Homo sapiens: one gene and its partners. The protein of the gene in region 1 purifies or fractionates together with the protein of each later gene. This does not show direct contact. Each region holds a gene or a part of one and is shown on either strand. Other genes may lie near its edges.

The links.
Region 2: the proteins of LMTK2 (region 1) and INVS purify together in Homo sapiens (affinity purification with mass spectrometry; one large-scale study listed by BioGRID and IntAct). This does not show direct contact.
Region 3: the proteins of LMTK2 (region 1) and ATP9A purify together in Homo sapiens (affinity purification with mass spectrometry; one large-scale study listed by BioGRID and IntAct). This does not show direct contact.
Region 4: the proteins of LMTK2 (region 1) and TADA2B purify together in Homo sapiens (affinity purification with mass spectrometry; one large-scale study listed by BioGRID and IntAct). This does not show direct contact.

The regions. Positions count from the first base shown.
Region 1 is NC_000007.14:98,196,743-98,201,332, reverse strand, and holds part of LMTK2 (serine/threonine-protein kinase LMTK2 precursor), read right to left. Parts: intron 1-4,590. UniProt on the Homo sapiens protein: Phosphorylates PPP1C, phosphorylase b and CFTR.
Region 2 is NC_000009.12:100,298,243-100,300,458, forward strand, and holds part of INVS (inversin), read left to right. Parts: intron 1-2,216. UniProt on the Homo sapiens protein: Required for normal renal development and establishment of left-right axis. Probably acts as a molecular switch between different Wnt signaling pathways.
Region 3 is NC_000020.11:51,607,891-51,611,390, reverse strand, and holds part of ATP9A (probable phospholipid-transporting ATPase IIA), read left to right. Parts: intron 1-1,225; coding exon 1,226-1,290; intron 1,291-2,764; coding exon 2,765-2,873; intron 2,874-3,500. UniProt on the Homo sapiens protein: Plays a role in regulating membrane trafficking of cargo proteins, namely endosome to plasma membrane recycling, probably acting through RAB5 and RAB11 activation. Also involved in endosome to trans-Golgi network retrograde transport.
Region 4 is NC_000004.12:7,055,912-7,058,452, forward strand, and holds the end of TADA2B (transcriptional adapter 2-beta), read left to right. Parts: 3' UTR 1-2,041; downstream 2,042-2,541. UniProt on the Homo sapiens protein: Coactivates PAX5-dependent transcription together with either SMARCA4 or GCN5L2.

The DNA of each region.
Region 1 (4,590 bases):
AAAATCAGAAATTTAAAATGCTTCTGGTCCTAAGCATTTCAGATAAGGGACGCTCCACTTGTACTTCTAGGAGAAGAATGATCTGAGTGACTGCAAATTTCTCATGAGAGACCGTGGAGGGTGGAAGGAAGGGATACATTTTTAAAATGCTGAAAGAAAACAATTATCAACACAGAATTCTACACTCAGAGAAAACAGGCTTCAGGAATGAGTGTGAAATAGTCTTAGATGGAAAAAAAAACTAAGAGAATTTATTTAAAAATAAAAGGAATCCTGCAAAAAAATGGGTTTTTAAAAAAAAGAGAGAAAAGAAAAGCTAGTTAAATTTCTTTAATTAGAAGGGAAAGGGTTCCAGAAGGAAACCTAGAACATCAATAATGAAAAAGAACAGAAGGACAGGAGGCCCTCCAGATCAGAGAGTTCCACATCCTCAGAGTCAACCAACCAGGACAGAAAACATTCAGAAACAACCACAAATAAGAAATAACAGTATAACAACAACAACAACAACAACAAAATAAATAATACAGTATAACAACTATTTTCATAGCATTTACAGTGTATGAGGCATTATAAGTAATCTAGAGATGACTGAAAGTCTGCAGGAGGATGTGTGTAGGTTATATGCAAATATGATGCCATTTCATATAAAGCACTTGGGCAGCCTCTAATTATGGTATCCAAATTATGGAACCACCACTTCTTGGAAACCAAGGGACAACTCCAGAAACGATCTGAACAGAGATCAGTGACAAGACCACCCGTGCATAACCACACCTGTGCATACTAAGTCCTGTGGTTAGCCTTGCGGAACCCACATATACAAAAAGTCAGCCCTCCGTATCTATACACAGGTTCTACATCCCGAGAATACTGTGCTTTCGATCTGTTTTGGGTTGAAAAGAAGCCATGTTATAAGTACACTCACACAGTTCAAACCCATGTTGCTCCAGGGCCAACTGTATAATACTATTCATTTCCTCTTGAGTTTCTTAGAATGTGTTTGATGACAGAAAGTCAAATGTGTTGCACTGTCTGAGGAGTTATCAGTGTACATGTATGCAACATAGAAGAGCATGTCAAGAAGGGGACGGAGGGCAAAAGGCCTAAGTGACAGTAGGGTTTCCACATTCCATCTGAAATATGCAAATACAGATTCTAAGTAGATTGTGAGAAGTTTAATACATACATTGTAACCCCCAGAACAACCACTACAAAAACTACGCAAAGAGAACAGTGTAAAAAAAAAGAAAAAGAAAAATGTAATACTAAAAATGTTCAATTTATTAAAAAGAGGAAGAATAGAAATAAAAATAGAACAAATAAAATGGTATACGTAAATCCAAAATATCAATAATTTTATTAAAGGTAAATGATCTAAACATACCATTAAAAGGCAGATTTTTCAGAACAGAGTTTTAAAAACCCCATCTAACTATAAGATCTGCAAGAAACTCATGTCAAATATAATGATACAGGTAGATTAAAAGTAAAAGGATGCAAAAGATACACCACGCAAACATTAACCAAAACAACGTGGCCAGGAGCGGTGGCTCACGCCTGTAATCCCAACACTTTCGAAGACCGAGGCGGGCGGATTGCTTGAGCTCAGGAGTTCGAGACCAGCCTGGCCAACATGGTGAAACCCCATCTCTACAAAAAATACAAAAATTAGCTGTGTGTGGTGGTGTGCACCCGTAGTCCCAGTTACTTGTGGGGCTGAGGCAGGAGGACTGCTTGAGCCCAGGAGCTCAAGGCTGCAGTGAGCCAAAATCATACCACTGCACTCCAGCCTGGGTGACAAAGTGAGACTGTCTCCGAAAAAAGAAAGAAAGCTGGAGCAGCTCTATGAATATAAGGCAAAGGAATACAGAAGGACATTACGAAAGGATAAAAAGGTCAATTCAGCAAGAAGACATCATCATCCTCAATGTATATGCATCAACAGAGCTGCAAAATACAGGAAGCGAAAATAAACAGAAATGAAAAGAGAAATAGACAAATCTAAAAATCACAGCTGGAGACTTCAACAACCTCTCTCTGAGTAATAGAACAAGTATGCAGAAAAATCGGCAATGACAGAGAAGAACTAATACCATCAACAAATTAAATCTGACATTTATAGAACGATCCACCCACCAAAACCAAAATACACACTCTTTCAGGTATACATGGAATAATTCACCAAGAAAGACCATATCCTGGCTCTAAGATAAACCTTAACAAATTTAAAAGCATTGAAACCATATTAAATATGTTCTCTGCCCATAATGGAATTAGACTAAAATTTAATAACAAAAAGATACAATAAAATCTCCAACTCTTGGAAATTAAACAATATACTTATTAAACTATATTAACCAATTATTAGTAATTATTAATTATAACTAATATATTAAACTATACTTGTTAATCTATGCTCCCAAGAGGAAGTCTTACAAAAAACTTTTTGATCTGAATGAAAACGAAAACTCACACATTAAAATTTGCTGGGTGCAGCTAAAGTAGTACATAAAGGGAAATTTATAGCATTAAATTATTAGAAAAGAAGAGGCCAGGTGCAGTGGCTCACGTCTATAATCCCAGCACTTCGGGAAGCCAAGGCAGGCAGATTCACCTGAGCTCAGGAATTCGAGACCAGCCTGGGCAACATGACGAAACAAAAAATACAAAAATTAGCCAGGCACGGTGGTGGGCGCCTGTGGTCCCAGCTACTTCAGGAGGCTGAGGCAGGAGAATCCCTTGAGCCTGGGAGGTGGAGGCTGCAGTGAGCAGAGATCGCACTACTGCACTACTACAGCCTGGGCGACAGAGCGAGACCCAGTCTCAAAAAAAGAGAAAAGAGGCCAGGCGCGGTAGCTCAGGCCTGTAATCCCAGCACTCTGGGAGGCCGAGGTGGGCAGATCATGAGGTCAAGAGATTGAGACCATCCTGGCCAACATGGTGAAACCTCGTCTCTACTAAAAATACAAAAATTAGCCAAGCGCGGTGGCACACGCCTGTAATCCCAGCTATTGAGGAGGTGGAGGCAGGAGAATTGCTTGAACGCGGGAGGCGGAGGTTGCAGTGAGCCGATATCACGCCACTGCCCTCCAACCTGGCGACAGAGTGAGACGTCTCAAAAAAAAAAAAAAAGGAGAAAAGAAGTAAGGTCTCGAATTCTAAGCTTTTCTAGAAAAAGCAAAATAAATTCAAAGCAAGGAGAAGGAAGGAAATAATAAAGACAAAGCAGAAATCAACGAAAGAGAAAAGAAAAAAAAATCCATGAAAACAAAAGCAATTTTTTGGAAAGATCAACAAATCTACATAATCTCTTCCAAACACTATCAGAGAAGGAAATACTTCCCAACTCATTTTATGAGACCAGCATTAATTACTCTGATAACAAAACCAAAGACAGTGCCAGCAAACAAACAAAACCCAAACCAACCAAAAAAACCTAGGTGGAGCCCTGAATGTTTATTCCTCAAAGCTGGAGAGCAGGAGCCTCTCAGACAGGGTCTCACTCTGCCATCCCGGCTGCAGTGCAGTGACACAATCATAGCTCACTGCACTCTCAAACTCCTGGGTTTAAGCGATCCTCCTGCCTCAGCCTCCTGAGCAGGTGAGACTATAGGTGCGGGCCACCACAACTGGCCAATTTTTTAAAAATCGGTTCTTATTATGCTGCCTAGACCAGTCTCACCTCCTGGCCTTAAGCGATCCTCCTGCCTCAGCTTTCCAAAATGTTAGGATTATGGGAATGAGCTACTGTGCCCAGCCTTCAGTGCTTGTTTACAGTATGACGGATCAGGCTGGAGGGAACCCTGTCGCACTAATTGCAAGTAAGCATCATTACCCGCTACTTTTGTCTCAAGAACACTGTGCACTGAGGAAGGACATCGCAAGTGCTAAAAGTCGAATGCGATGCCAGGCTGCAGATTGTAAAGGTGCATGCAAGAGGTGGCAGGGCTCAGTGGTGAAAAGTTCTGTGCTCGGTCCAGGAGACTTGGGTCAAGCCCTAGCACTGCTACTCACTGGGGCCAGACCCTGTGCAAAGTTTACCTACTCTGAGCCTCAGGGTCCTCTCCATGAAGATGGTGACAACCACCCCCACATGGGGAAGCAAAACAAGACTCAATGTATAATAAAGGTGCTGGCACCCACAGACTGTTCACCAGCCTTTACTACTTTACACGGTAAGTGCTGGTTAAGTATTTGCTGAACTGACAAATAGTAATATAACCAAGAAACAATTGCTGCCCAATCCCATGAACACTCAGTTAAAAGTTTGGAGCCAAGATACTTCAACTGCTTAAAAACTACACAACTTCAAAACCAGCTCATTAAAAAAGAAAGCAGGAGTGGGAGGAAACCCTCAGTCCTCGGCCTGAACGCTTGGTGGCTGTCGCTTCAAGGCATGCTGCATGAGACGCATAAGCAAACGAATTTCAGATCATCAGAAAGATCTTCCTCATTTTCTTCTGGCCCTGACCCACCTTCCGACTTTCTCCTTGACACTAACTTCCTTGTCAAAGCCTCGCGTCCATTAAGCATGTCTGGTATTTGATCTCTGTACCTTCCATCCCATAACTAGAGTGCCCTTGTCAC
Region 2 (2,216 bases), on another chromosome or scaffold:
CTATTATTGATCACTTTTACACATTTTTTCACACAAAGGAAATAAATGAAAATACTGTCACTCTTCAAAGGAATACCTTGGGAATCCTTGTTCCATTTTGGTGTCACACTATGATCCCCTATTTCCTTCTCCAAGATGGGAAGAACACCATGAAGAGAACACTGAGAGCATGTACAGCCCAGGCTCAGCTGTGCGTGCTTTCCCTCATACAGGAGAAGCTCAGGGAACTTTCTTTTCAGCCACCAAGACAAGAGTGTTTTACTTAGGGCCCCCTCATTCACACCAGCATTAAATATGGGTGATAAGTTCATTGCTGTCAGCAGCTAATGCCAGGTCCAGTGTTTCTCATAGGTGGCTATGGCAACACGCTCCCCCCTGCCTCCTCGATCCACACAGTCATCCTGGAGGAACAGAGTGCAGCTGGGAAGGTGAACAATGACTGTCAGCATGAACTTTAATATTCATTTAGTTTTTTGATGGGGGGCAAAAACCTGGAGGTGGGGGACAGAGTAATTACTGCCAAATCTTTAATAAGTGTTGGACAACTCATGTAATACAGACAGGCTGATCAGGGAGTGGTGGGTGGGGTAGTTAGAAACTTTCAAAGCAATCAAGGCCTACAGTCTGTTTAAAAACAAACAAACAAAAAAACCCCTTTCATTATACCTGAGCAAATTAAAGAATCATTTCAAAAACAGAATTGTCAGATATCACTACCAGAGAAGTGGCATTTAGACAATCAAATACTAGCATAAATTAGATAACTGGATCATTTTTCAGTCTTAAGAGAAAAACAAATCCAAGACTACCAGAAATCTTTTAAAATGGTGTTTAGCAGCATATAAGTTTTTTAGTTAAGAGACTCAGAAGGGACAGAGTAAATAAATTCAAATCAATACTTAATGATTTCTTAGGACTTCATATGAACAAGCAACTTACTTGTCCTACACATATTTTTGACTGGTTTAAAATCAGACAAGGATAAAATGATCTTTTCCTAACCCCAAATTTAGGAGAACACACAGTTTTGTTAGGCTCAAGCCCACCCACATTAAGCATTAACCAGTTAATGAATATTATTGCTCTCACCCTCCAACTTGGAGAACCCCCCACCCCCGAGGTTTTAGTAGTGCCTTTACCACTTAAAAAGGAAGAAGCAGAAAGGTGGATATAGCAAAATGCCAGCCTCCTTGGGCTGTTTCTCCACATGTATTTGGGAGGCAGCAAATCAATCCCTGCTCATGTCAGTCTTCTACACCCAGCCTTGCAAACCACCCACCAAGAATCTCAGCAGAGCCTTTTATTGACACACAACACACACACACACACACACACACACACACACACAGCCTTGCAAACCACCCACCAAGAATCTCAGCAGAGCCTTTTATTGACACACACACACACACACACACACACACACACACACACACACACACCTGGGCCTATCTCTTTAACAATAAAAGAAAAGAACTCCCTTTAAAGTTCCATTCCAGTGAATGGAATAACTGTGATTATTAGTATTGGTACCCCCTGTACAAATCCAGTTTATTCTTGCTCACCTGCAGAGGGGTACACAGATGACAACTCCATTCAAGATACAGTGAAGACAGCCAAAAACAATAGTTCACATTAAAATAATTTTGTGGAAGTTATAAAACCAAGAGAGAAAAATTGAGACATATGTTTGTTACTTTTAAAAACTACTAAACCTTTAATGTATTTGCTTATATGCTCCATAAAAAGTTAGAAGCAAAATATAGCAATGTCTTCAGCAAGGTTTCTCATATGGGGCCTCAGTATCATTTGTCAAAGTATATCACTAATGTTTTCTGACTGTGGCATCCTATACATTTGTTAATTCAAAGTCATAAAAAGGCCTCAAAAATCCATTTTGATATTCCCATCAGCTTATCATTCATGAGGATCTGAATATTTTCTAACAAACCTATTTTCTAGAACAACTATTCAAAGTGTAATAGGAGAGTTAAAAGATGTGTTACCTGTTTATGTAATGTGTTATGTGAGAGACCCAGAGAGAGAATCTATTTGTTATTTCAGGCAGACTGAAGACCGAGGTTCTGGTACCAGCTCCCCAAGTGCCTGCTCTCTCTTAATCAAGTCTCCCTTGAAGAGATGTCCCATATCTTGAGACTGCAGGAAATATAAAGCTATTATATTAAGTCATCCTGCCTCTACAGTAAACTGGCCCATCA
Region 3 (3,500 bases), on another chromosome or scaffold:
TTCTTGACATTTTTACAACCATCCTTCCTAAGCAGCGGCACAGCCTGGGTGAAAAGTCACTGGAAAAGTGGCTTTTCCGGCGCAGCCAGGGCGAACTGGGGCTTCCTGTGGCCATGGCGCTCAGGATCACCTGCGCTCTGAGCTCTGTGCCGAGAAAGCACGTGTTTCTTACATGCTTTCTCTCTGTGTCCATTGAAGGTGCTCTGGGGAGCTAGCCCTGGTCTGATGCTATTTCTAATGACTAGGGTATCTCTGCCTTGCTTTCTTCTGCTTTCTAAAAGCTTTCAGGCAGCATTTGTCTCTGGCCTTCCTTCAGCTTTATATGAATGGATATCAGCTTGGAGACCGTGTTTCCTCTGTTAGCCCATAGAGGTCCAGAGATGGAGCTAACAGAGCTTCAAGCCTGATTGGATCTCCCCAGCCTATTCATCATTACCAGCAGCTAATATTTTCCAAAGCAGGAAGCAGACATTTCCGCGAGGGTTTGTAAATATCTTCATTGCTTTTGTCTAATTGCAAAAATAATCTGTCACCATGCTCTTTTCAAAAATTTCCCCAAATACCGAAACATGTAATATAAGAAGTGAAGCCTTTTCTGCCATCCCAGCCCCCGTAGACACTTCAGAGGCTCTTTTTCTGTATGTGTTTCCATACCTACGGCACTTTGGTTAGCAGCGTGCATGCCTACAGAGGTGAGGATTCCGAGCTGTTTAGAAGTGTGGCCACAGAGCTGTGGCCACAGCTGGGCTTGAGTCCCATAGGGCTGTTTACCTGCTCAGCCTCCCCTTCTGTAAAGTGTGGGTGATAGTAGGGCTTGATCCTGTGGGCTGCTCTGGAGATCAGCTGTGCTCATGTACAAAGCATTCCTGGGTCCTGGAACTTAATAAATATTCACAACAGGCTGAGTAGACCCTGGAGCTGTGATACATCACCCTACCCGGGAATGATTCCTAGATTTGCTGCTTAGGAACTGTGTGGGCTTGGGCAAGCCACGTACCCTCTCTATGCCTCACTTTCTGCTTTGCATAATGAGGATGATGAGAATCGTACCTACTTCATAGGGTTGTTGTTGATGTTGTGAGAATGAAATGAGCAAATCCATGTAAAGTACCTTACAGCAGTGCCGGCGCGGGTGTTATGTAAGTATCAGGTGTTATTTTTATTCTGTAAATGTAAGGGATTTTGTCATGACTTTTGGTGACATCCTCCTCTCTCCTTGGCACAGGCTGTCTTTTCCTCCGTGTTTTACTTTGCCTCCGTCCCTCTCTATCAAGGATTCCTCATCATTGGGTAAGGAAATCCTGCCAAGGAATTAATTGTTTACAAAACCTTCTTCAAATGCTGCAACAGAGAGAAGAAACGTGGTGGAAAAATTCTTGGGTTCCCAAGCCACATTGGATTCCCAGCCCCAGCGAATGCAGGCCCAGCACCATGGTTTAGAACCTCCTTCAATTAACAAGGTTTTGAGCTGTTAAGCCCTTAACCAGATGGAGGAAGTGGAGTTGGAGATGTGTGTGGTGTGTTGCACTTTGCCATTTGTACCTGGTCTTGAAAAAATACTCCAGAGTTATCAGTTGATTGAGGAGAGCAAGGTGGAAGGTTTGCAGACTTGGTGATTTCACTGGGGTCTTAATAAAAAGGGGTGGGGGATCTGAAAAATGCCCTCCTGGCCTGAACTGAGCCCAGTAGAAGTCCCATCCTTGGAGCTCCAGGGAGGGCCAGAGTCCACTGCCTCGGGGATGTGCAAGTAACAGAGCTTGGCTGCTGTGCCACAGTGACAGAGATGGTGTCACTTGGGCCTTTGCAGCCTGCAAACCCACCCCCATTACTGACCTGGAACTTCAGGATGATCCTTCTGACCTTTTCAGAGAATGTGCTCAGTCTCTGAATCACCCAGGTAGGTGGAGTTTGGTTACCGAGTGCCCTAGATACAGACACATGCAGCTGAGGCCACTTCTGGTTATGAGGAGACGGCGGGTGCGGGAAGGTCAGCTGCGCTCTGGAGAGTCTCACAGAGTCCGCTTTCCATCCTACTGTGTTGGCTGATGAGTTCAGCCTGAGAGGAGGCACTAGAATTCTGCCTGCTTCTAACTGGAAAAGCGGGCTGTCTTTCGTCGGGTTCTGGAAGAGTACAAGAACATTACAGAATATAGTCAGGGGTTCCCTGAGCTGTGCGCCGTGCGACCTTCCGTGGTCTGGTCCCATCTTTCCCGTGGGTCCTCATTTCCTCTTCCGTCGCCCTCAGCCCCAGCCCCACTGGCCTTATGGCTGTTCTTCAGACATGACAGCCACTCCCGCCTCAGTGCCTTTGCACTGGTGGTTCCTTCTCCCTGGAATGCTCTTCCTCCTGGGATTGGCTTGGCTGGCCCTCACCTTTTGTGGGTGTTCACTCAAATGTTCTGTTCCTCAGCCTCTAAAATTGTACCATCACCCCCTACACACACACACACACACACACACACACACACGTCTTATTTCCTCTACCCCATTATATTTTTCTCTTTAGCACTTCTCTAACACACATAGAGTTTACCTAATTTATTTGTTTATTGACTCGCTGACCGGGATGAAAGCTCTTCAGGGCAGACATTTTTGTCCATTTTTGCTCATGGGTTTCTGGTGCTTACAGCCAGCCCCGGAGCATAATAGACAAGCAGTAAATATTTGTTAGAGGCATGGTTGGGACTTGGGTGCCGGAGGCTGGCACAGCACATAGCTCCTATCGCGTCAGCCAGGTCTTACCTATGGCGGTTTTCTCTCCCAGGTACTCCACAATTTACACCATGTTTCCTGTGTTTTCTCTGGTCCTGGACAAAGATGTCAAATCGGAAGTTGCCATGCTGTATCCTGAGCTCTACAAGGATCTTCTCAAGGTTCTGTTAGCTTTTCAGTCCCTCCTTCCTCCTTTCCTCCTTTGCTTTTCCCTTCCTTCCCTCCCTCCCTGCTTTTTTTCTTTGAATTTATTTCACACAGACCCTCCAATTCTGATTTGAACACACTTGAACTGGTAGCTTTTTTACTTTTGGGGGGAAGGTGTGGGAGTTTACATTTTTTCTTAAAGCAGTAATATATTCACTGGTATAAAGAACGTGAAAAAGTACAGTAATAGATAAACTGAAAACAAGCCAACTCACGACTTGCAAAAAGCCCCTGACAGTTCCGCTTTGCAGTTGCAACTTAACGTTTGCTCCCAGAGATGTTCTTGTGTACAGTTCCAAAAAGTGTGTGTGGTGGCGTGTGCCTAGGCAGGTGTATAATTTTATTTGTCTTCAGGGTTTTTTACCCAAGGGAAGGTTTATTCCCATGTAATGTTAATTTTAATGTTAATTCTTTTTTTTTTTTTTTTTGAGACTAATTCTCACTTTGTCACCCACGCTGGAGTGTAGTGGCTCGATCTCGGCTCACTACAACATCCACCTCCTGGGTTCAAGCGATTCTCCTGCTTCAGCCTCCCGAGTAGCTGGGATTACAGGCGTGCACCACCATGCCTGGCTAATTTT
Region 4 (2,541 bases), on another chromosome or scaffold:
TGCTGTTAAGACGTGAGTGCATTTCACTTGGAAGAACCCATTGTACAAAGTTCAAGGCTAAGAGTTCTGAATTCTGGCGTCAGCTTCCTCAGGATTTTCTTCAGTTGCAAGTACCTTTCCACTGAAAATATGAGCATGCCCGCCTGGCTAGTAGGCATCTGTAAGAGTGTCGCCAGGCCCGCGCCAGCTGAGGCCTCAGACTAGCCAGGCAAGAGCCGTCTGACCAGTTGGCTGGCGGTGGTTCTGGTGGAGCACGAGGGAGCCCGGGTGGTGCCCTGAGCCTCGAGCTGCTCTCTGTCACTGTCTTGAATCAGACTCAGAAATGGCTTCTTCCCAGCCCTGCCTACAAGTTTTTCTCTGGGGTCCTCTTTCAAGGATGTCCACGGTACCTTCCTCCTGAAACTTGAGGAAGTCTTTTGTCTTCCAGCTGCTCAGGGTTCTCTGGTCCAAGACCCTGCTTTAAAGAGAGTCTTTGGCGTGCTCAGACTCCAGCGCTCCGTTCTTCAAGGAGGTTGACTTGCCTCTCGGGCCCCGTAGGTACCAAGAGACTGTTTACCTCCCAGAATGTTTGGGCTTGAAGTTACATTAAAGTGAAGTTATTTGAAAGAAAGAAAACCTCATCATTTCTAAGGATGACTTAATTACTGTGCCTTTTCCTTTCTTTTTACACATCCTACTGTCCCTTAGGGTAAAATTTTCAGCATTAAATAAAACATTTCAAATATATTGTATATGGCTTTAGTTGTAAACTATACTGCATGCTGACAGAGAAGCGCTCTTTTAGCTAAGCCCAGAACTTCTCTTTTGACAATAAAGTACTGAGCAGTGGTATCATGAGGGCCACCTCCACATTGTCCCCTGCAGAATAAATGCGGATGACAGAAAGCTTATGCTGTCTACCACTGAACAGTGATGGAGATGGTGCTAAGTTTTTACAGTTGTCTTAGCCCCAGTGGTTCTCAAGGTGGGGCTCCTGGCCCAGCAGCAGCAACTTGTTTGTTAGAATGCAGACGCGCAGGCCCCACCTGGCCTCCTGAATCAAAATGGTGTGCGGCAGGGTGCAGCGAGCTGTTTTCACGAGGCCTCCAGGTGACTGGATGTAAGCTTGCTTGAGAACTATGGGTTTTAGCTATTCTGGTGTCTCCCTGATTTTCTACAGCGCCAGGATCCTAGTTTGGTGAGGTTTTAAATTTAATCTTATTTTTATATAAAATGATTGCCAGACGTACTATATTAAGCTTGAAGAAGCAGAAGATCCCTGTTAATGTGTATGGCCCAGGCCAAGAGCTGTCAAATGAAAAACTTTGTGCTGAAGCAGGTTTTTAGTATGTATATCTTTTTGATGGTATGAAGAATTTATTTAGGCTTGACTGTTTTAAAACACCATAATGAATGTATAATTAATTTATGTTAAAGTATTAACCCTTTGTCACAAAGGAATGGTAATGTGATTGGCTGCCTGTTAGCCCATCGACTATTCCCGTCACGGTAGTCCTTACCTCTGTCGGCAGCTCAGAGCCTCCACATTTTTATATTTAATTCTCATGATAAATTAGCCACCATAATCCCATGGAATTAGGTCTTGTTAAAATCTAGTCCGGGCGCAGTGGCTCACGCCTGTAATCCCAGCACTTTGGGAGGCCAAGGCGGGCTGATCACGAGGTCAAGAGATCGAGACCATCCTGGCCAACATGGTGAAACCCTGTCTCTACTAAAAATACAAAAATTAGCTGGGTGTGGTGGTGCATGCCTGTAGTCCCAGCTACTTGGGAGGCTGAGGTAGGAGAATTGCTTGAACCTGGGAGGCGGAGGTTGCGGTGAGCTGAGATCACGCCACTACACTCCAGCCTGGTGACAGAGCAAGACTCCATCTCAAAAAAAATCTAAGCAAACTATCTTTGAGTCAAAAAAAGTTGGATAACTCATCTATATTTGAAATAATGCTGTCTGAATGGCCAACATCCCAAGAATGTATTAAAAACAGCAACCCTGCCTACCGTTTTGATGACCTTTTTCCATATTAAACAAGTTGAGAACAAAAGAGTGTCACCGCTTGCTTCTTACCTCTGGTTCTGAAATCAGATGTCTTCTTGGAGCCACACAGAGCTAGGGGTGAGCCACAGTTCAAACACAGATACAGATTGTCACATGACGTACTTTTGGTACTTTGTATCAACCCAGTTTTTCCTCCAGAAGATTAAAGTTGCTTTGTCTTTTTTTTTTTTTTTTTTTGGGGAAGAGTCTTGTGCTTGTTGCTCAGGCTGGAGTTCAATGGCACAATCTTGGCTCACTGCAACCTCCGCCCCCCCGGATTCAAGCGATTCTCCTGCCTCAGCCTCCCAAGTAGCTGGGATTAACATGCACCCACCACCGCACCCAGCTAATTTTTTTGTATTTTTAGTAGAGACGGGGTTTCACCATGTTGGCCAGGCTGGTTTTGAACTCCTGACCTCAGGTGATTCACCTGCCTCAGCCTCCCAAAGTGCTGGGATTACAGGCGTGAGCCACTGCACCCGACCTAAAGTTGCTTTCTCTTAAGCA